Regions from separate parts of the Homo sapiens genome. Here region 1 is linked to region 2. Evidence: fine-mapped expression QTL. A gene starts in region 2. The other region holds a variant in brackets. All regions are shown on one strand. Distances are from middle to middle. Region 1 holds the start of MYOM3 (myomesin 3). Region 2 holds the start of RCAN3 (RCAN family member 3).

The links.
Region 1: its variant is fine-mapped to the expression of RCAN3 in tibial nerve (GTEx, PIP above 0.99).

Annotation. Positions count from the first base shown.
Region 1 is chr1:24,109,944-24,120,454 of GRCh38, forward strand. It overlaps MYOM3 (myomesin 3), which reads right to left and starts at 2,192. Exons shown (of 37, transcript NM_152372.4): 1 at 2,088-2,192. It overlaps IL22RA1 (interleukin 22 receptor subunit alpha 1), which reads right to left. Exons shown (of 7, transcript NM_021258.4): 7 at 9,828-10,511. RefSeq lists an enhancer at 2,394-2,902 and a silencer at 10,496-10,511. The variant G/A (reference allele first, on the strand shown) is at 5,684.
Region 2 is chr1:24,497,690-24,508,200 of GRCh38, forward strand. It overlaps RCAN3 (RCAN family member 3), which reads left to right and starts at 5,147. Exons shown (of 5, transcript NM_013441.4): 1 at 5,147-5,461. It overlaps RCAN3AS (RCAN3 antisense RNA), which reads right to left and starts at 4,693. Exons shown (of 2, transcript NR_144360.1): 1 at 4,659-4,693. RefSeq lists an enhancer at 3,833-3,932 and silencers at 4,536-4,708, 4,990-5,489, 6,996-7,196.

The DNA of each region.
Region 1 (10,511 bases), 390 kb before region 2:
CGTGATGGCGCCCAGTGGGGCCGGATCAGATTGACCCAGGGGAGGCTCAGGAAGCGGATCCATGGATATGGAGAGGCAAACGAGGGGTGTGGGAGGCCCGTGTGCCCGCTGGCTGTGGGTTTTTGCACTGAGTTTTCTCATATCCGGGCTTCAGTCACTGCTGGGTCTCTGAGGGCCCCCCTGATGCTAAAGCTAAAATCCCTGGAATGGCTTTCACACCTCCTCCAGGTGGGAATCCTGGTCTGCAGGCTTCTGGCATGGGAGGGTTCCTGCCCAGGCGTGGGGATGGAAACAGAAGAGGGATGACCGCCTGCCTTGGCCTGCTCCTGTCAGCTTCTGTGGGGTCAGCTCTGTCTGGCCCCTGCCTCTCTAGAGGGTCCTGCTGGAGGTGGCAGCGTGTGTGTGTGTGGGCGTGCATGTGTGTGTATGTGTGTGTGTGCGTGCATGTGTAGGCTGTCTTCTGCCTGGATGTGAACACAGCACCTAGGTGACCATTTCTCTAAGTCCATGGCATGGAAGGTGAGCCCACTGGCTTTATTGGAGAGCCGTTGGCCTGGAAGGGGCATGTGGTGGAGGTGTCTGGGGCTCGGGCTGTGGAGGGTCAGTCTTAGTGGGCTTTTACCCCTTCTACTTCCTAGAAGTTTGCTCCTTTTGGGTGTCTGCAGTTGTGGGCATCAGGAAAAAGAGAATGGATGGCTGCAGGGTTAGCTGGGACCAAGGGCTGCCCCCTAAAGCTCCCTGGGCTCCTGCTAATCATCTCAAATGACATAATGGGACAGTCACCCTCTTTGGCTTCGTATCACTCCCTCCCGATGGAAGAAGTTCTCTTTGCACCCAAAGAAGTGGCTAGCCCTGCTCATTCTGCTCTTTCTTCCTCATGGCCCAGGAGGAGAGCTGCTGGGTACCACCCTAGGTGGAGCAAGGACCCCCCACTCTGCCCCAGCTTTCCTGGGACACGATGGCCCTGGCTCCAGTGGCTGAGAGTTAACATTCCCTGGCACCAGCCACTGGCTCCCTTCCCCTGGATGCTCTGTTCCCGATTAGCACAGCAGGCAGGGGCCTGGCGCTCGTCCCTGACCTCGGGGCCTCCAGCAACCAGACCCCTGGCTTTAGCGGATGAGCTACCAATTCTTTTTAAAGCACTGACTGATGCGTGGTATTAAGCAGGGACAAGTTTGCGGCCTCACTGCCCTTTCCCAAAGGACCAGGGTGCCTCTTCCCGGAACACTGTGTGTGCCTGCGTGGAGGGGAAACTGCCCCCGCTTCCCTCTCTTGGGGTGCAAAAATCTGGGCCAGAGGTCCCACTGCGTGGCCTTCCCTATTCCCCTCTGCTTTCCTCCCAAGCCTCCATCTGCCGAGGAGGCCTCTCCCCTTCTTCAGGAGGGAAAGAGGAATGCACAGCAGTTGAGCCAAGACCCCTCCAGGAGCTGCGATGGGGGCGGATGGTGGCTGGGAGCAGAGACACATCCTGCGGGCGGCGGGTGGCACAGGCTGGGACGTGTTCTTAGCCAGTGGCTCCACCAGCTTCCGCGAGGCCGAATCCTGCCCTTGCCAGTCATGAGCTGAGGCAACTCCTTTCCCGTCTGGGCCTCGGTTTCCTGTCAGGCACTGGATGAAATCCCTTCCAGCTCTAAGATTTGGGATCCGAGGGCTCGCTCTCTTTCCCTGCCTGTGGGGTTGGCCAAGCCGGGCTCAGCCAGCTCCGCTCTAAGTTCGTGGAACTTGCCAGCTTAGCCTGGCTCCCGCTTATCGCTGCTCCATCACAGGAAAGACTCCAGTTCCCAGGGCAGCCCCCACTCTTTTTTTTTTTTTTGCAACTTTCACATCACAGACAGCTCAGCTCTCAGAAGACCCAGGGCCACACAGAACAGTGGGATGGGGCAGGGGTTTCTGGAATCCCCTCCCATTTTCACTTGGGTGCTGCCTCAGCACAAATTTCCCAGGCTCCTTTCACAACACACAACACACATACACACAAACACACACACGTGCACACACACACACACATGCACCCACAGATATCACTCCCCAGTGGCTGACTCTTAGGAGGCATCCCTCCCCCACCCTGATTTCTGGGGGTGACTCACAGAAGCAGTGTGCCCACTTAGGAGTCTCTGGGGAGAAGATTCCTGAGGCCGAGAGGGTCCTTGTTCTCTTCTTGCCCTCGGCTCAGCGGGCACCGGGAGAAGAATGCGATCCCGGAGACTGCACCGTCTTAAATATAGCAGCACTGAGACAGTACAATGACAATGGATGAGAACTATGGCATCGGGGACAGGGGGCCAAGGGGAGGGGCCATTCCGTGTCTCCAGCCTGCTGGGCAGCAGCGACAGGTGGAGCTGTCCGCCGCGTCCCCCCACACTGCTCCTCCTCTCAGCTGGGTCCTTTCTGCCCAACCCAAGCCCCTGTTAAAATGGAAAGGAGGGAACGGCTCAGGCATGGTCGTATGGAGGGCAGATCCCGTGCGGCGTTCTCAGCTGTCGGGAGTTCTGATCTGAATTCTGCCCCGGCTGACTGGGTGCCCTGGGGAAGGCGCTCAGCTTCCCTGAACTGACTGCCTTCTGAAAAACGGAGACAGTGAGACTGGGCACCTGGACTTCATGAAGACGGTGGAAGGAATATGACCTAAAAGTGAGTGTTTCGTGCTCAGAAGTTGTCACTGGCTAAAACAGCAATGTGTGGCTCCTGGTCCCTCCACCACTCCGGTAGTTACTACACGGCCCCCGCCCTGACCACAGTCATGTGTGTGTGGTGTGGTGCAGGCAGGAGGAGCTGGGGAGCCACCTACTGCTTCACTGTGCAAACTGCTCAGGCTGCCAGAGTGTCCCCTGAAGGGCCTTCTTATAGGGTAAACGCACCTGACAGGGATAACTGAAGCACGCTCCAAGAATGACCCTGTGTGGAAGACCTGAATATGTGTTCCGAGCTAAGGAATCTGGGGAGTAGCCAACCCGTTTCTTACCTACGATGAATATCTGAGCCCCCGTCCCGTCCCTTCTGGTGGAACGCTGGCCATACAGGGGATTGAGGCCCTGAGTTTTGGGTTAAATGAAGATTGCCAGGTGGAGGTCATTAGGGGATGGTGTAAAGTGAAAATGCTCTATAAACTGCATGCTGTTTGCAAGGGGCTGAGGTTTTCCTGCCCAGTCGGCCGCCACTGGTATGTTGTCCAGCCCGCCGCCCCTGGACCATTTCTGTATGTAAGGCGGTTCTCCTGTCCAGTTCATCACCAGTGGACTCTCTCTCCTGTAGGCAAGCCCCTAACAAACCCCCACGTTCCTTCCTTTCCTTCCTTCCCTTCCTTCTCTCCCTTTCTTTTTCTTTCTTTCTTTCTTTCTTTCTTTCTTTCTTTCTTTCTTTCTTTCTTTCTTTCTTTCTTTCTTTCTTTCTTTCTTCTTTCTCTTTCCTTCCTTCCTTCCTTCTTTCCTTCTTTCCCTCCCCCCCTCCTTCCTTCCTTCCTTCCTTCTCTCTCTCTTTCTTTCTTTCTTTCTTTCCTTCTTTCCTTCTTTCTTTCCTTCTTGAGTCAGAGTCTCACTTTGTTGTCCAGGCTGGAGTGCAGTGGCATGATCTCAGCTCACTGCAACCTCCGCCTCCTGAAACCCCCATGTTCCGTTTGCTGGCTATGGATCTTTTCTTTGGCCTCTCAAACCTGGTGCCTTCCCTACTGAGGTTAATAGGTGTTCGGCACCACACCTCTTCCCACCCTTTGCCCTCTCCTGCCATTCCCTCAGTCTCAATTCTTTCCCCCTCACATTCATTGGCACCTACCCTATGCCAGACCCTAACCTACAGGGGAAGTCAGGCACTTACGACAGGAGGTGATCAGGAAGGTGCACCTGGGTCGAGTCTCAGAGGATGAGCCGGTGAGGGGAAGGCTGTACCGGCCCCTAGCCAGAGAGCACAGCTTCCCTCCCTCACCCCTTCCTGCGACCTCAGGTGGCCACCCACACTACACCTGTCACTCTTGCTGGTGCCTCAGGGACTCCTCACTCGAGAGAAGGAGAGAGAGAGCACAAGTGAACTTTGCAGGCAAAATCTGAATCCCCTGCCCTATTTGAAAACCCCTTTCTAAGCTCTTCTGTGGCTCTCTCTTACAGCATCTTTTGGGAGAGAACATTTCTCTCCCATCTTCTATTGACCCAATCGAACAAGGGCTTTCCAAGACTCATCTTCATACATTTGCTGTGAGGGATGAGTGTGAGTGAATCCGTACGAACAGCAAAGAGGGCTTTGAGCTTCCAACTGAGCAGGAGACAGTCATTTAAACAGGTCCTCTAGCCCCGTCCTCCCAAGGCAATCTGGGGAGATGAATGAAGGTGCACTGGAGAGACAGGGTGCATCCTGGAGTCAAACCGGCTTAGGCTTTCAATTCAGTCCCACCACTTATTAGCTGGATGACCTTGGGGAAGGCACTCAGCCAGTGTGGTTTGATTATCTGTACAGTTGAAGACAACAATTTCCACTTAGCTGTCTCATTGAAAATGTTCAATCAGGCTGGGCATGGTGGCTCACACCTGTAATCCCATCACTTTGGGAGGCCGAGGCGGGTGGATCACCTGAGGTCAGGAGTTCGTGACCAGCCTGGCCAACATGGTGAAACCCCGTCTCTACTAAAAATACAAAAATTAGCTGGGTGTGGTGGGGGCGCGCCTGTAATCCCAGCTGCTTGGGAGGCTGAGGCAGGAGAATTGCTTGAACCCAGGAGGTGGACGTTGCAGTGAGCTGAGATGGCGCCATTGCACTCCAGCCTGGGTGACAGGAGTGAAACTTTGTCTCAAAAAGAAAAGAAAAAAAAAAAGAATAGAAAAGAAAAGAAAAGAAAATGTTCAACCAAGAACCGTGAAACCTCCAGCACGGCGTCTGGCCCCGGACAGACGTTTGCTAAATGAAAGCTCTAGGAATGCTGATGGCTTTCTCTTACCCCATGCTTCTGGGGGTGGGATTCCCATGTATCCCTTTGTTGACCTCACCCCAGTGAAGCACTCAGTCATCACTGGAACCTCTGTAAACATGGCCAAGCCTAAGGTCATGCGGCTGAGCAGAGAGATTAGATGACTTGATGTTATACAAGCCTTGGTTTAAATCCCAACCTCTGGTGCCTCAGTCACTAACAGGGGGACCTTGGCCTCCTTTCTGGGCCTCAGTTTCTTTCTCTGTAGGTGGAGGACACATTCCAAGATAGCAGAGAACTTGCCTGCCTGACCATATCCCTACCCCCGAGAACAGTGCTTGGCATACACCTGGCCCTCAATTCACATTTATTTACAAATGAATCAGTGGGCTGGGCGCAGTGGCTCACGCCTGTAATCCGAGCACTTTGGGAGGCCGAGGCAGGTGGATCATGAGGTCAGGAAATCGAGACCATCCTGGCTAACAAGGTGAAACCCTGTCTCTACTAAAAATACAAAAAATTAGCAGGTCGTGGTGGTGGGCTCCTGTAGTCCCAGCTACTCAGGAGGCTGAGTTAGGAGAATGGGGTGAACCCGGGAGGCAGAGCTTGCAGTGAGCTGAGATGGCGCCACTGCACTCCAGTCTGGGAGACCAGAGAGAGACTCCGTCTCAAAAAAAAAAAAAAAAAAGAAAAATGAATCAGTGAATGGTTACTGTCTTAGTTCGTTTGAGCTGCTACAACAAAATACATTAGACAGGGTCATTTATAAATAACAAAAGTTTATTTCTTACG[G/A]TTCTGGAGACCAAGAAGTTCAAGATCAACGTGCTAGCAGATTCAGTGTCTGGTGAGGACCTGCTCTCTGCATCATAGATGGTGCCTCTTGTGGAGTCCTCATGTGGTGGAAGGGGCTAGGGCACTCTCTTCAACCTCTTTTATAAGGGCATTAATCCCATTCCATTTTTATTTTTTTCCCCGAGACAGGATCTTGCTCTGTTGCCCAGACTGGAGTGCAGTGGTGCAGTCATGGCTCACTGCAGCCTCAACCTCTTGGGCTTAAGTGATCCTCCTACCTCAGCCTCCTGAGTAGCTGGGACTATAGGCACGCACCACCACACCAGGCTAATTTTTGCGTTTTTTGTAGAGACAGGGTCTCACTGTGATGCCCGGGCTGGTCTCAAACTCCTGGCCTCAAGGGATCTTCCCACCTTGGCCTCCCAAAGTGCTGGGATTACTGGCTTGAATCACCACCATGCTGGCCTCTTGATCCCATTATTGAGGGCATAGCCTTCATGGCCTTCCAAAGGGCTCACCTCTTGCTACTATTACATGAAGTTTCAACATATGAATTTTGGGGGGACTCCAACATTCAGACTATAGCAATTGCCTATCTTGCAGAATGGCTGGGAGACTCAGATAAGGTTAAATGTGTAAAATACCTACTATAGTACCTGGCTTATCTTTCTTCTTTCTCCCCTTGCCTTCTTTTCTCTTTTATTCCCTTCCCTGGACTTATGACCATTAAGAACAAACTGACTGCTCTGAACCTCCATGCTGTTTCTCCGACAGCAACCAAGCCTGTGGCTTTCTCCCCCTGTGTGGCGACACTGTACCTGCTTCAGTCTCCCGTCCCTCCCTGTCGCTCTCGGAGTCCAGTTAATTGCAACTGCTGTTCTTCTCATACGGACTGGCCAAAGCATATCTTCCTTACTCCCCCTTCCTCCTTAGAGTGGGAAGGAAAAATGGGCTCAAGTAGCCAAAGGAGCTGAGCAGCAGCTCTGGGGTCTCAGAGTTGTCTCATCAGCGTCAGCACCAGCAGGGGAGGTGGGGGCTGCCTCCATCTCTCTGGCAATACCTGCCTCAGCTTATTGTTTCTGTCCCATGGTCTGGAATGCAGGTGGGGACAGCGACAGGGGACAAGCATTGGTGACATCAGGCCATAGTCTCCCTGTCCAGGTTGACACTCAGACTTGGGAGGGACAGAGGCTCTGGCTGTCTGGAAATCTGGAGGAGCTCCAGTCCTGCTGGTCCAATTCTCTGGGTGGAAACTCAGGCAAGCCCTGTATGTTCCTAGAGTCGGGAGCTTGGGAGGTCAGAGGTTTGCAGGCATCACAGCCATGCAGTACCCCCACCCTCAACTCTGTTGCAACAGCGGGTGTAATGGGGGTCCCTCTAGGGCGCTGATTTGAGGCTATGGAGAGAGAAAGTGATGGTGTAACGGCACTGTTCCCTCAACTTGCTTCAGAGGAATCACCAAAGAAGTTTATGAAAAATGCAGATACCCCCCAGCACTTTGGGAGGCCAAGGTGGAGGATCACTTGGGTCCAGGAGTTTGAGGCTAGCCTGGTCAACAGGGTGAAACCTGTTGACAAAAATACAAAAAATACAAAAGTTAGCAGGCATGGCGGTGGGTGTTTGTAGTCCCAGCTACTTGGGAGGCTGAGGTGAGAGGATCACCTGAGCCAGGGAGGTGGAGGCTGCAGTGAGCTGTGATCATGCTACTGCAATCCAGCCTGGGTAACAAAGTGAGGCTCTGTCTCAAAAACAAACAACCAGATTCCTAGAAACTGTGAGTTTAGCAGGTCTGGGGTGGGCTTGGGGAAGCTGTATTTTTAGTAAGCTTCCCAGAGTATTTTCATGAACTAGGGCAAGTAATCTCTCTGAGACACATTTTCCTCCTTTGCGAAATATCAATAATACAACCTATCATGGAGAGAAGGGTACCAGGAGGATGAATGATCAAGTACATAACGGCCAAGCAACACGGTTGACTTCTTCTCTTTCATATGACTTTGACTACTGCTACTATTATATTACTAGTCATTTATTCCTGGGCTTGACTGTGCCATACCTTGTAGGCAAGTGAAAACTTGGAGAATCACCTCTCTTGCTGGGCAGGGTGGGGCTGTGGAGATTCCTGGAAATGGGATCGGACCCAGGACTCTCAGGAACGATGAGGTCCCCAGCCAGCTCCAGGGTATGCGGACGCTCTGCCTTCTGGCTGGTTCCAGCTCTATCTGCAGGCCTGGGCTGCCTGGGAGGCATGGGACCTCAGGGGTCATGCAGTCTGGTCCCCGCCCCTCAGTGCAGACAGGTCCAACCTGAGGAGGGGTGAGTCACAGACTCGAAGCCATCCATCCCTCTCTTCAGACACTCAGACTCCACCCTCCCAGAATCATTTCTGAAATGTTTGTCACCCGGAGGAGGGCAAAGAGCTTCGTGTTACTGTGAGTTGGAAGAGATATTTATGGCTTTTAATAAAACTTCTTTTTTGAGATGGAGTCTCGCTCTGTTGCCCAGGCTGGAGTGCAATGGCTGGATTTTGGCTCACTGCAAACCCCGCCACCCGGGTTCAAGTGATCCTCCTGCCTCAGCCTCCCAAGCAGCTGGGATTACAGGCGCCTGCCACCATGCCCAGCTAATTTTGTACTTTTAGTAGAGAGGGGGTCTCATGTTGGCCAGACTGGTCTGGAACTCCCAACCTCAGGTGATCCACCCACCTTGGCCTCCAAAAGTGCTGGGATTACAGGCGTGAGCCACTGCGCCTGGTCTTAATAAAAAACTTCTGTAGCTCCTGGGTCTCACTTGGTGAGAATAGTCCACCTGTTAGGTTGTTTTTCACCAATAAACAAGGTGAAGACAGTTAACCTTTGGCCAAGTGTGACCCAAGCAACAGGAAGTAGACTTGTTTGCAGTGGGTGGGGAGAGGGGAGCCGTCATCCGGCTGACTTGGCTGCCGTGGAGGGGTGAATGGGCTGGGGGGGGCTGTCCAGGTAGACCCATCCCTCTGCACGGAGGTGTTGGGTCTAAACCAGTGACACCGAGGAGATGTTAAACATTAATTACCATCAGATAAGAACACCACCACCTGTCACTGTGTCCCAGGAAAGGGGAGGGGTGGGGAAGAGAAGAGGAGATGTACCTGGGAAGAGAAGGACACTGTCCACTCTGGGAAGGGTCCCTCTGAGGTGACTGGTGTTCCATCCTCTTTCTCAGAAATGTTCAGAAAAGGCTTTGGAGGGCAGGTGTGGTGGCTCACGCCTGTAATTCCAACTACTTGGGAGGCTGAGGCAAGACAATCACTTGAGCCCATGAGTTCAAGACCAGCCTGGGCAACATGGCGAAACCCCATCTCTACCAAAAATACCAAAAATTATCTGGGCATGGTGGCATGCACCTGTAGTCCCAGCTACTCGGGAGGCTGAAGTAGGAGGATCACTTGAGTCCAGGAGGTCAAGGCTGCAGTAAACTGTGTTCATGCCACTGCACTCCAGCCTAGGCCACAGGGTGAGACCCTTTCTCCAAAAGGAAAAACAAAACAAACAAACAAAAAGACTTTGGAGCAAGGTGACCAGGAGCACTTTTCTCTTGGGGACCCCATTAGGAGGCCTCCCCTCCTTAGCCTCCACTAGTCTCATCCTCCAAGAATCCAAGCAGGTGTGGAAAGCTTCCTCTCTCGATGAGGACAAAAAGCCCTAGGTTTGCACTCCAACTCTGTCACAGCCTCAATAGTGGGATCTCGGGTAGGTCCCCTCTCCCTCTGGACTTTGGCTTCCTCATGGTAGGGGTCGTCTGAGATGCAGTGATACGGAGGGTATGGCAGCAGTCTGAGAGCACAGAGTGTGCAACACTGCCTCTGTGGGGGATCAGGGAGGCTGGATGGACAGAGGCCGTCTGAGATTACCACTGCCACCCACAATGGCTTCTGCCTACGATCTCAGGGAGAAGGTTCCACATCATTTGTCTCTGAACTCTTGTCTCTAGAAGGCCCTGCAGTCCCTCCTCTTTCCCACCCCAGACCCCTCTGGCTTTGCCTGTCCTGAGGAAATCCAGGTCATTTAAGCCCATGAGAAAATGCCAGGTGTGTCTGAAGCCAATCCGAATTGGGGGAGGGGGTCACTCCTTGTGTAACGTAGTTTAAAAAAAAAATCACAACAGGAAATAGCTACCGTTTATTGGGCACTGCCCATGTACCAGGCACTATTAAGCACTTTAAAGACATGACTTCATTTCATCTTCACCACAACTCCATGAGGTAGGTGTTATGATCCCCACATTACAGATGAGGAAACCGAGGTTCTGGGCACTGATTTCATTTGTTTGAAGTCACACAGCTTGTGAGTGGTGAGGCTGGAATTTGAGCCCAGATGGGCTGAACCCAAGGCAGAGCTTGCAAAGTTGTGACATCAGTACAGTGTGTTATTGTACCCGTCCAGGGGCCACAGCCCTCACCTTCCTTTCAAACCCCATTCTCAGGATAGGGTCTGAAACTCCTGCCTGCAGAAAAGGCTTGTGTGTCTCCCTCCCTGGTGGACCTGCATTTCGCTTTGTTCTATCAGAGGAATGAAGCTGAAATCGTGCAACGTCAGGCAGTTGCCCTGGCTGGGAATGAGCTGCAGGCCACACCCCTCCCTAGAGTCCTGCCGTCCTGCTGGCCCTGGCCTTGGCAGAAGTGCAGGTTGTTCTGGTTCTGCCCAGCCTCCTTCTGGTTCTTTTCCAGGCCTGGTTCTTTTCCAGGCTCTCTTCCCACCTTTGAACAATGACAGAAGAGGCAGGGGCCTCATGCTCTGTCGAGCTAGATTGTGAAACTGGCCAGGAATGGGGCAAGGAGAGGCAAATTCCC
Region 2 (10,511 bases):
ATCTATGCGTTTTGACTTCTTTTGCTCAACAATTGCTTTTGAGATTTATCCGTTGTTATGTGTATCAACATTTCATGATTTTTTTTTATTGCTGTGTAGTATTATATTGTTTGAATATACCATGGTTTTCTTATCCATTCCTCTTGTGGACATTTGGGATATTTACAGTTGGAGAATAGTATGATTAAATATTTTGTGTTGTTGATTTGTTTTTGTTTTTTTGAGATGGGAGTCTCTTTTGCTCAGGCTTGAATGCAGTGACACAATCTCGGCTCACTGCAACCTCTGTCTCTCGGGTTCAAGCCATTCTCCCACCTCAGCCTCCCAAGTCACTGGGATTACAGGCACCCGTCACCACACCTGGCTAATTTTTGTATTTTTAGTAGAGACAGGGTTTCATTATGTTGCCCAGGCTGGTCTCAAACCCTAACCCCAACTGATCCACCCACCTTGGCCTCCAAATTGCTGGGATTAGAGGCGTGAGCCACCTCACCCGGCCAAGATGTTAAGAGCATTCTTGTACCAGCCTCTTTTTTGGTAGACATTTCCCTACATTTCTCTTGAGTCTGCATCTAGGAGTGGAATTTCTGGGTCATAGGGTAGGTGTACGTTTAGCTTGATAAACTGGCAGTTTCCAAAAATCAGTTGCATCCTTTTACATTCCACTACTAATGTATGCATGTGAGATGGAGATCTTTTGCCACTTGTATCATTTTCATAGCACAAACCCAAAACAAACCTAATAAGGATTTGTTAGGATATTTACTGTTAAATCTACTCAAATAAGAATAAGAAAATCTGGAATAAGAAAATCTGAAATGAAATCGCTGGTCTGGAAATTCTCCTAAAAGGCAAGAGGTGTGCTACTCGGGATCTGTGGCATTGTCTGAGAGGTTCTACTGAAGTTTTCCAGGGCAGCGAAATGCTTAGCACCCTGGGCATAGGTTTCAACGGATTGAGCCACAGGGATCAATTTCTCTTTTTCTCGGCCTGTAACTCAAACCTCACATGAGAAGGAGAGGGAGGGAGTGTTAGAAATGTGGAACTGTCAAGTTCATTCATAACAAGCATTGATTACCCACCGTGTGGTCATCACCTCGCTAGACACGATGGTAAAAAGGAAGGATGTGGAAGATTCTGTTCTTGCGCTCAAGTTATCGAGTTGCCCACGATCTAGACGATAGATACAAGATGGCAACTCTTCCTCTGTTCACCATGGAAAGGCTGGTGTTTGTTCTTCTAGATTCTGCCTTTTGCCCTTTCTGTGTTCTATTCTACGTGGGCTCCCCGGGTCATTTCATCTGAGCCCGTGGTTTCAACTAACTAACGCGCCTCCCTCCCAAATCACTACTCATTGAGCTCACTCCTAGGCTCCAGATGCATGTTTTCCAACTACTTCCACCCTCAGCTCCTCTCTACTGCTCATGATTTACATACAATTCCTCAGTAAACTGTGTTAACATTGCCTCTGAGATATAGCCAGAATCCTACCATTTCTCATTGCTTCCCCCATCACGACCCTGTCCAAGCCACAGTCATCTGTGGTCTGCACTATGGTGATACTTCTTCCAAACCAATATCAGTACCATAGTGCTGTTGCCTGCCCTTGATTCATTCCCCTTTCTTTTGGTAATAGAGACTTGAATCTCCTTTGTTGAATGTAACCATCAGCATCCCAGCAGATGATTAATCTAAAGGGGGTTTAGTAAAGGTTACATACAGATGTGTGGGCAGGGTTGAGGGAAAAAGCAGGGCTGATGGTGTGATACACTGTGGCAGGCAACAGAGGGGAGCCATTATCACCTCCAGGGTGGATAATTCTGGAGGTGGAGAAGGGAGAATTTACTAGAACTAGGAGAGAGTAGCTGTGTGAAGAAGGCCAGTTGACAGAAGCTTCAATAAATACATGTAGCCAACCTGCAGCGACCCAGAAGGGCAGGGGCCAGAGGAATAATACCCTTACCTTCCTCCTCCTCCAACCCTCGGGTCTCATTTCCAATGTCTTCTATTTGGTGAATTCAACTGTAAGTCAGAGGACAAGGGATCTGTGGAAGCAGTCCATGCAGGTTGGCCTCTTGAGGTTCAAATCAGGAAGGAAAAGGGTGGAGAGTAGGTCTGGAAGGGCCAACAGAAATGATCTAGCACAGGAAGCCACCTCTCCCCAAATCTCAGTCCACGCGATTTGTGAGGAGCTGTCAGAATGTTCCATGCCCCTTCTCAGGAGAGTGGTTTAGTGATGCACGGGTAACACAAGTTAGACCAATGGGATGTAGTCCTGGGACTTTTGTTGACAGCATCAGGGAAAAGAAACTCCCTTTCTGCTGGAAAGGGTGTGATCTGAAATTGTAAGCAGCCATTCTGCCATCTCATGGGGAAAAGGAAGCCTAAGAACGCAAAGTCAACAGGAAATAGAGTCAAGAAATGGAGGCCGGGTGCGGTGGCTCACGCCTGTAATCCCAGCACTTTGGGAGGCCGAGGTGGGCAGATCACGAGGTCAGGAGATCGAGACCATCCTGGCTAACACGATGAAACCCCATCTCTACTAAAAATACAAAAAATTAGCCGGGCGTGGTGGCGGGCGCCTGTAGTCCCAGCTACTCGGGAGCCTGAAGCAGGAGAATAGCATGAACCTGGGAGGTGGAGCTTGCAGTGAGCCGAGATCGCGCCACTGCACTCCAGCCTGGGCGACAGAGCGAGACTCCGTCTCAAAAAAAAAAAAAAAAAATGGAGAGAAAAAACTTAATCCTAATGTCGTAGTTTAAGCCCCTGAATCCGGCCATGCCTGAAGCCCCAAACTTTTCTATTATGTGAGTCAATGCATTCCATTTGCTGCTTAACCCAGTCTGATTGATGTATTCCATGAAAAAAAGAGAATCTTGAATAATACTGGAAAATGCGAACCCCGTTCCCTGAACCATCATGTAGGATTGCTCACTTCTTCCTCTGCTTTGTCAGCACTTTGCAAATGTCTCAGTGCACAAATACAACTGTATCACAATCACTGTCTCCCCCATCTGTGAGCTCCTCAGGTGGCAGATCTCTATGGACCTTACCCTTGCAAGCCCAACACCCACACAGGGCCTAATACCTCAGGGAAACTAAATTAAGCTAATCTGGTTGTTTGACTTAGGATCTCTCAGGGCCATTTTTTTTGTGTGAACGTGCATCAGACATCTCCAGGCAGGGCTATGGAATGCAGCTGTTTCCAATCTCATTTGATGTGAAAACTCAATTTTTTGGCCAGGTGCAATGGCTCACGCCTATAATCCCAGCACTCTGGGAAGCCAAGGCAGGAGGATTGCTTGAGTTCAGGAGTTTGAGACCAGCCTGGGCAACATTGTGAAACCTTGTCTCTACAAAAAGTAGAAAAATTAGCCAGGCATGGTGGCATGTGCCTGTAGTCCCAACTACTCAGGAGGCTGAGATGGGAGGATCACTTGAGCCTGGATGGTTGAGGCTATGATTGTGCCACTGCACTCCAACCTAGGCAACAGAGCAGACCCATCTCAAAACAAACAAAAAAACACCAAAAAAAAAAAAAAAAACAACCCTCAATTTTTGCAAAAGTTGCTGTGTTAGAGGAATTTAGAGAAAAAATAATTACTATAGTCCTTAGAGTGACCTTGACAAAAGAAGCAGCTTGCCATCAATATTAGTTAAACGAATGAAAGTGAAGAACTTAGTTTAAGACAAGATGGGGAGCAGGAGCAGCACGGTTGGAGGCAGCAGGAACCACAGAAGCAGCAAGCAGGAAGTAGGAGGGGCGATCTGCTGGACATACCTCGGTGACTATGCTGGGCTCAACTGCTGGGGAGCCCTTGGGGTCATAATCCAACCCTGATTTCTTAGTTTACATCTAACAGGGATTAGATGTGCTGTACACATTTTAGTCCATCTTCCTGCCCCATGATGCAGGCGCTGAGTGCCTTTGATGTTAAGCTTCACTGTGCCTCACTTTGCCTCTGAAAGGTCTTGAGTGGGTAATGAGAGCTGATTTTCTTCTAACTGCACATTCCTTTTTTTTTTTTTTTTTGAGACGGAGTCTTGCTATGCTGTCCAGGCTGGTCTCAGACTCCTGGCCTCAACCGATCCTCCCACCTCTGCCTCCTGAGTTAGCTGGGACTACGGGTGCGCACCACTGCGTGACTGCGCGTCCTTGTAGGTGGGAGATGAGCCCAGTTATTTTCCCTGCTGTGTGACCCTGCTTCCTTCTCTGCCGGCTAAGGGAAGAGACACCAGCTGCCTTCCAAGTTGGGCTCAGGAGCTTTGTCATCATAGTTGTTATTGGTGGTAATAATACCTGCCAATGTAAGCCTCGGTCCTATCACTGAAACTCGCTCAACAGCTTAGACCCCGGCTCTTCCCTTTGCGTAATAGTTGTAATCATGTCCCATGGTCTCCTAAGGCGTCGGAGACAAGCAAGACTGCGTGGAAGGGTTTTTACACGAAAAAGAAAGCATTAAACATGTGGATTGTATGACAACGGTAGATAGGGCATAGGGTGAAGAGGAGTAAGAGGAGGAGGGAGAGCGGGAGGAGGGAGAAGAGCACGAGTGGGGAGGAGAGGAGGGGAGGGGATGGGAGGGGAGGGGAAGGAGTGGGTAAGGGGAAGAGGGTTGTACCCGCCAGGGCGGGACCCAGCCTGTGCCGTCCCACACCTTGTGCTAGCTCCAGCTCAGCTACCTGCGGCCGCCTCTCCTCGGGCAATGAGGCGCCGGGAAGCCCACAGCATCTGATAATATCCGGGCCGCCGGTTGCCGGGAGGTGAACCGAGGTAAACTCGCCGCGCGCGGGGCGCAGTGTACATAGTAACCAGCCCTGAGTAAACGTTCGTCATATTCCTATGAGCTGCTCCGGGGACTGTCCTACGGGGCTAGCAGGAAAAGGAGATCGGCTCTCTCCGCTCCCGGTGGAAAACGAGAAGGTCGCCAGAGGTCCTGTTTTCGGGGTGATCTAAAGCCCCCGCCCCAGCGCTACAGCCCAAGCCCCCCACAGGCTGGGGACCAGGAACCCGGAGGAGCGGGAGGAGGGCGCGCGCGGCGAGACACCCCCACCCCGGCCCCCGCGCGCCCCCGCCCCGGTCCCCGCCCGGGTCCCCGCCTTGTCCTGGGCTCTGGCGCCTGCGCCGCCGTGCGCGCGCCCTGCCAGAACAGGAGGGGACGAGGCGGGCGCGCGGCGCCGGCAGCCTAGCTCAGCCGGGACACCGCCCTAGTCCCAGCCCAGGGGGCCGCTCTCGCCGGCGTCGAGGGCGTGGCGGCGAGGCTGCTGCTGCAGGCGGCTCCCGGCTCTGCCTTCGGCCCCGCCCGCCGCCCACCAGGCTCCCAGAGGCCCCGCAGCTCGCGCCGTCCGGCTCCCCGCAGCCCCGTCGGGCAGCCCGGGCCCGTCCGCTGCCCTCCCGGCTCCCGTCCTGCGGCGGCGGGGCGTGCAGGTGAGGCCCCACGGCGCCCGGCCTCTCCAGCAGGTTTGCACCCAGCGCGGGGCGGGGCGGGGCGGGGCGGGTGGGGGGGGTGGTGCATGAAAAGTTAAAAAAAAAAAAAAAAAAAAAAAAGCCGCCCCGAGAAGTCCGGGAGGGGTGGGCACTCCGAGCCGCGGGACCGGGAGATGCTACCGCGCGCGACCTCGCCTCCCGCGACCTCGCCTCCCGCCGCACCCTTCTCGCGCGCGGGGTCTAGTCTGGCAGCCTCGAGGGTGGTGTCCCGGAAAACAAAACAAAAATGTTTTGTCTTCTCCACCAACGATTTTCTCCCACCAAGTGTGTTTGACCTTTTGAAAAGCCGACAGGCCCAGCCTGCCTGTGAAGGCAGGAGCGGTGTAGGGGCGCCTGGAAGGTGGAAGCCCCCTGTCTTTCTCCCTTGCCCCGCTTCCCCCACGGTGCGTGGATCACCATCGCATTAGTGACTCCCTAACTTCTTGAAACTTGTCTGTCTGCTTCTGTCCGCCGCCTGGACAGGTAGGGCAGGAGTGATCTGTTCCAGGTTGATTCTTCTAGCTTCCGTGCAAAATCTGATCATCTCCTTTAGAGATTAGGATTCTAGTGTAGGAAGCAATCCAGATCCGTGTTTCAGATACAAACAAGGATTATTTAAAGTGATGTTTTCCTGTAGTGCTGAAAGCCAAAAATATTCGCTTCCACTTGTTGGAAGCCACCAAGTACACCACATTTATTTGAACTTTTCATAGAAGTCTCTGATGTACTATTTGGCAAAAGAAGCAATTGATTTATCTGTAGCTGTGATTACATACGATGTAAAGTAATTTGTTTTAAGACTATTTCATTGGCTTTGGTTCAATATCTTAAACTCTGTAAACACATAATTCAGGAGCCAGATATGCATCACACAAATGTGTTCTTTTTGGTGGGGATTTAAATTGATCTAGAAATGGGCTTTCCATCCAGGAAGACTGTGAAAAGCTTGAAAACTGAGTCTCTTCTTTAGCCAGGTCATCAGCTTTACATTTTACTGCATTGGCAAGCCTTGCCTTTTCTTTTCTCTTCTCTTCTCTTTTCTTCTTTTTGAGACAAGGCCTCGCTCTGTCATCCAGCTGAAGTGCAGTGGTGCAAACACAGCTCACTGCAGCCTCAACTTCCCAGGATCAAGCGATCCTCCCACCTCTCAGCGTCCTGAGTAGCTGGGACTACAGATGCCGGCTAATTTTTTGTAGAGATTGGGTGTCACTATGTTGCCCAGGCTGTTCTTGAACTCCTGGGCTCAAGCCATCCGCCCACCTCTGCCTCCCAAAGTGCTGAGATTACAGGCATGAGCCACCGCACCCAGCCAAACCTTTTCTCTCTTAGCCTGAAAACAGATTTCAGTGCTTTTCTAGGAAACAAGATTTTTCCTGCTGTTGAAATATAACGTTTGTAAAGGTTTCAAACATGTGAACATTAGGTAACAGACAAGAGCAGATTTTATATGGTGTTAGAGTTGTTGGTTGAAGGACTTAAAGCATGAAAAATAGTGTGACGCGGAAATCCATTAGCCTGAAGCCTGTGAAATAATGGAAGCTCTAAAGTTCAACACCGTTTGTTACTTAGAAAAAAAACACAGAAGGTGGAGGTCGGACAGCAATCTCCACTTTTCCCCTAGAATGTAGAGGTTCTATCCAGGGAAAAGAAATTATACACAGCACAACAAATAGCATCAGTCTTATATATCTCAACTTCAGTTATTCTTTAAAACCTGTTGTTTTCATATGTTTTGTAGGCTGGTTTTTGTTGTTTATTTCTATCTGTCTCTTGCTGACAAATTCCTGGTGGAGTGGAACTTCAATTATAACAGGACCAATTCTAGGTTATCTGTGAAAACAAGACATGGGTCATTGAAACATACAAAATACAAAAATCAAATTTTCACCCGTTTTACTTTACTGTCGCACGAAATTTTTCTTACACACAGCTACTAAAAAATAGTACAGTTCTACCTGTAAGTGGTAAATGAGTAGAGAATAGAAGGTAGGGCTTCGTGATAGCCGTTCAGAACTTCGCATTGACGATCCTAAGTGGCTTTTTGTTGTTGCTTTGTTTTTTTTTTTCTCTTTTTTCTTTTTTTTTTTTTTTTTTTTTCTTTTTTTTGAGATCTCCTTCTGTTGCCCAGGCTGGAGTGCAGTGGTGCAAACACAGCTCACTGCAGCCTTGGCCTCCCAGGCTCAAGTATTCCTCCCACCACAGCCTTCTGAGTAGCTGGGACTACAGGCGTGCACCATGTGTTTTTTTGTAGAGACGGGGTTTTTCCATGTTGCCCGGGCTGGTCTCGAACTCTGGAGCTCTGGCAGCCCGCCTGCCTCCGCCTCCCAAAGTGCTGGGATTACAGGCATGAGCCACCACACCAGTCCAAGTGTTTTGTTTTGTTTAACTTAGTTGAAATTTTTAATTTAGAAATTTAAAAAAGGAACTTAGTAGCCCAAAGCACCTATGTTTATTTTATATATTTTATACACTTTATGTATTTTATCTTGTTCATTTTATAAATACAGAAAAACCAAGGGATTTTTCCCAAGGTTATACAGCAGGACACTTGTAGAGCTGATAATGGAGCACTTGTTTGCTTCCAGTATTGTTTGGTAGCATTTTTAACATACAAAAAAAGTGAAAAGTACATCTAGCTAAGATACTGAAATGTTCACCAAGTTGGGAAGCCTATTAATTTGAAAAATTATTATTATTTTAATCCTGGAGGAGAAAGAATTTGCGTTTTCCTGATCAGAACAGAAAATGCAAGATCCATGCCATGTGCTTGACATTTTGCCTTGATAGATGACTTTTGTCACAGGCCTGTTGTGGCAGAGCAGATGGTCATGCTACTTGGAGTTTTTCCACTCATTTGATATTTCCATGAAGAAACAATTTGCCAGAAGCCAGCCGTAGTTAGAGTTGTGCTGGAGATGACGGGAAACCTGGATTAGCACAGACTTTTGCTTACAGGAGCTGGAGGATATCGGTTCAGCCCTTTCTGCTGGGCCAGTCAAGAGTTCCCTGGATTGGTAAACTGAGGAACAGTTTAGTCTTGTGATAGTTGGAGTGGAGCTATAATTATACCACTGCACTCTAGCCCGCATGACAGAGACCCTGTCTCTAAAAAAGGAAAAAGAAAGAAATATAGATATCTTGGGACAAACGACAAATAATTTGACAATAATCTAAAGAAAAATTGAAGGAAAATAGCTAAGACATTATTAGGATAACTGATAAAATTTGAATCCAGATTATGCATTTGACAAATTATGTATTAGATAATAGTATTATATCAATGTTAAATTTCCTGTTTTTGATAATTATCCTATGGGTTATATAAGAAAATGATCTTGTTCTTATACACTGAAGTATTTGGAAGTAAAAGGGGTATGCTCCATCTTTCAATGGCTCAGGAAAATGCATGTCTATAAAAATAGAGAAAGATAAAGCAGATGGTCAAAACAGAAGGAATTGGTGACTCTGGGTAAAGGATACAGCATACCCGAGTTCCTTGTGCTATTCTTATAACTTCTGTTTGAAGTTATATCAAAAAAAAAAAAAAGGTACTCAAAATTGAAGGTAGAAAACAGGAAATGAAGGTGTGATATTCTAAGAATTTTTTTTTTTTTAAGTCAGGTGAAGGATTATTTCCTGTGTTCTGTTTTTTAAAATCTTTTTACGGGTTAGACGAGGGAACTTGAAACAAACAAATCTTATCAAGAATAGGTTGACTTTCTCAAATTTCAAAATCTAGTCAGCCAGAGCTCCCCAACTTACCAGCCTCCAAAAACCCGGGCACAGTATTTTCTCTACCTCTTTTTAATGGGTTGGGAATAGGATAGAAACATTAGTGCCTCTAAGAGATAAGATACAAAGACAGCCCACCTTTAGAGATACTAAAAGTTAAATTGCACTTGGTTTTATCATTTCCCTGCCTAAAAACCCACAATGGCATGCTGATATTGACATGGTTTTTGTGTCAAAACTCTGTAACCCTACTTGCTTGGCAACCTGGCCCATACCTGCCTTTCCGACTGTCTCATGCCACCCCCACCAAACACCTTGCACCCTAGCCATGCCAGATCACGTGACCTTTGTGCATGCTGGTCCTACTGTCTTCCTGCCTTTGTTCATGTCCTGCTGGCTTTGTGTGGAATGCTCCCCATTCTTTTCCTCCTGAAATTCTGTTCATCCTTGAAGTCTCACCATTGCCTCCTTGGGAAGCTATCTCTAATCCCATGCAGAATTCAATTTACCTTTGTCTGTGCTGACATATCAGTGGGGTAACTAAAATACTACCTGCTGTTATTCAGCCTCCCTTATTAAGCATACACTGTGAGCGGGAAACTATGCCAGGGCCTGGGGTTTCACAGATACAGTCTTGTAGCTAGGAGTGATTTGTAAACAAATAATCACAATGTAAGTGTATAACAGAAAAATGAACCAAGCACTGTAAGAGCTAAGTCCACCTGACAACTTTGTCTTGAAGAAAAGATTAATGAAAGCCACAGTGAGATACACTGTCACTCCCTGCCCCGCTTCCGCAGGGCCCCTTTCCAGATTGGAGATTTCTGGCACGATAAATGAGTAAGTTAAAAACAGTTGTTGTACCTGTGGGCCACCCAGATAGATATATTCAATAGAAAGTGAAAAATACGGCTAGGCGTGGTGGCGGCTCACGCCTGCAATTTGGGAGGCCAAGACGGGGGGATCACCTGACGTCAGGAGTTTGAGACCAGCCTGACCAACATGATGAAACCCCATCTCTGCTAAAAATACAAAAAGTTAGCTAGGTGTGTGATGGCATGTGCCTGTAGTCCCAGCTACTCGGGAGGCTGAGGCAGGAGAATCGCTTGAACCCTGGAGGCAGAGGTTGCCAGTGAGCCGAGATTGCGCCAGTGAGCCGAGATCGCGCCACTGCGCCGAGACTGCGCCACTGCACCCCAGCCTGGACAAGAGTGAAACTCCGTCTCAAAAAAAAAAGAAAGAAAAAGTGAAAAATACAAGACTAGAACTCAGGATTGAGAGTGAGTCTTGGTATATAAATTTGAATGTACCC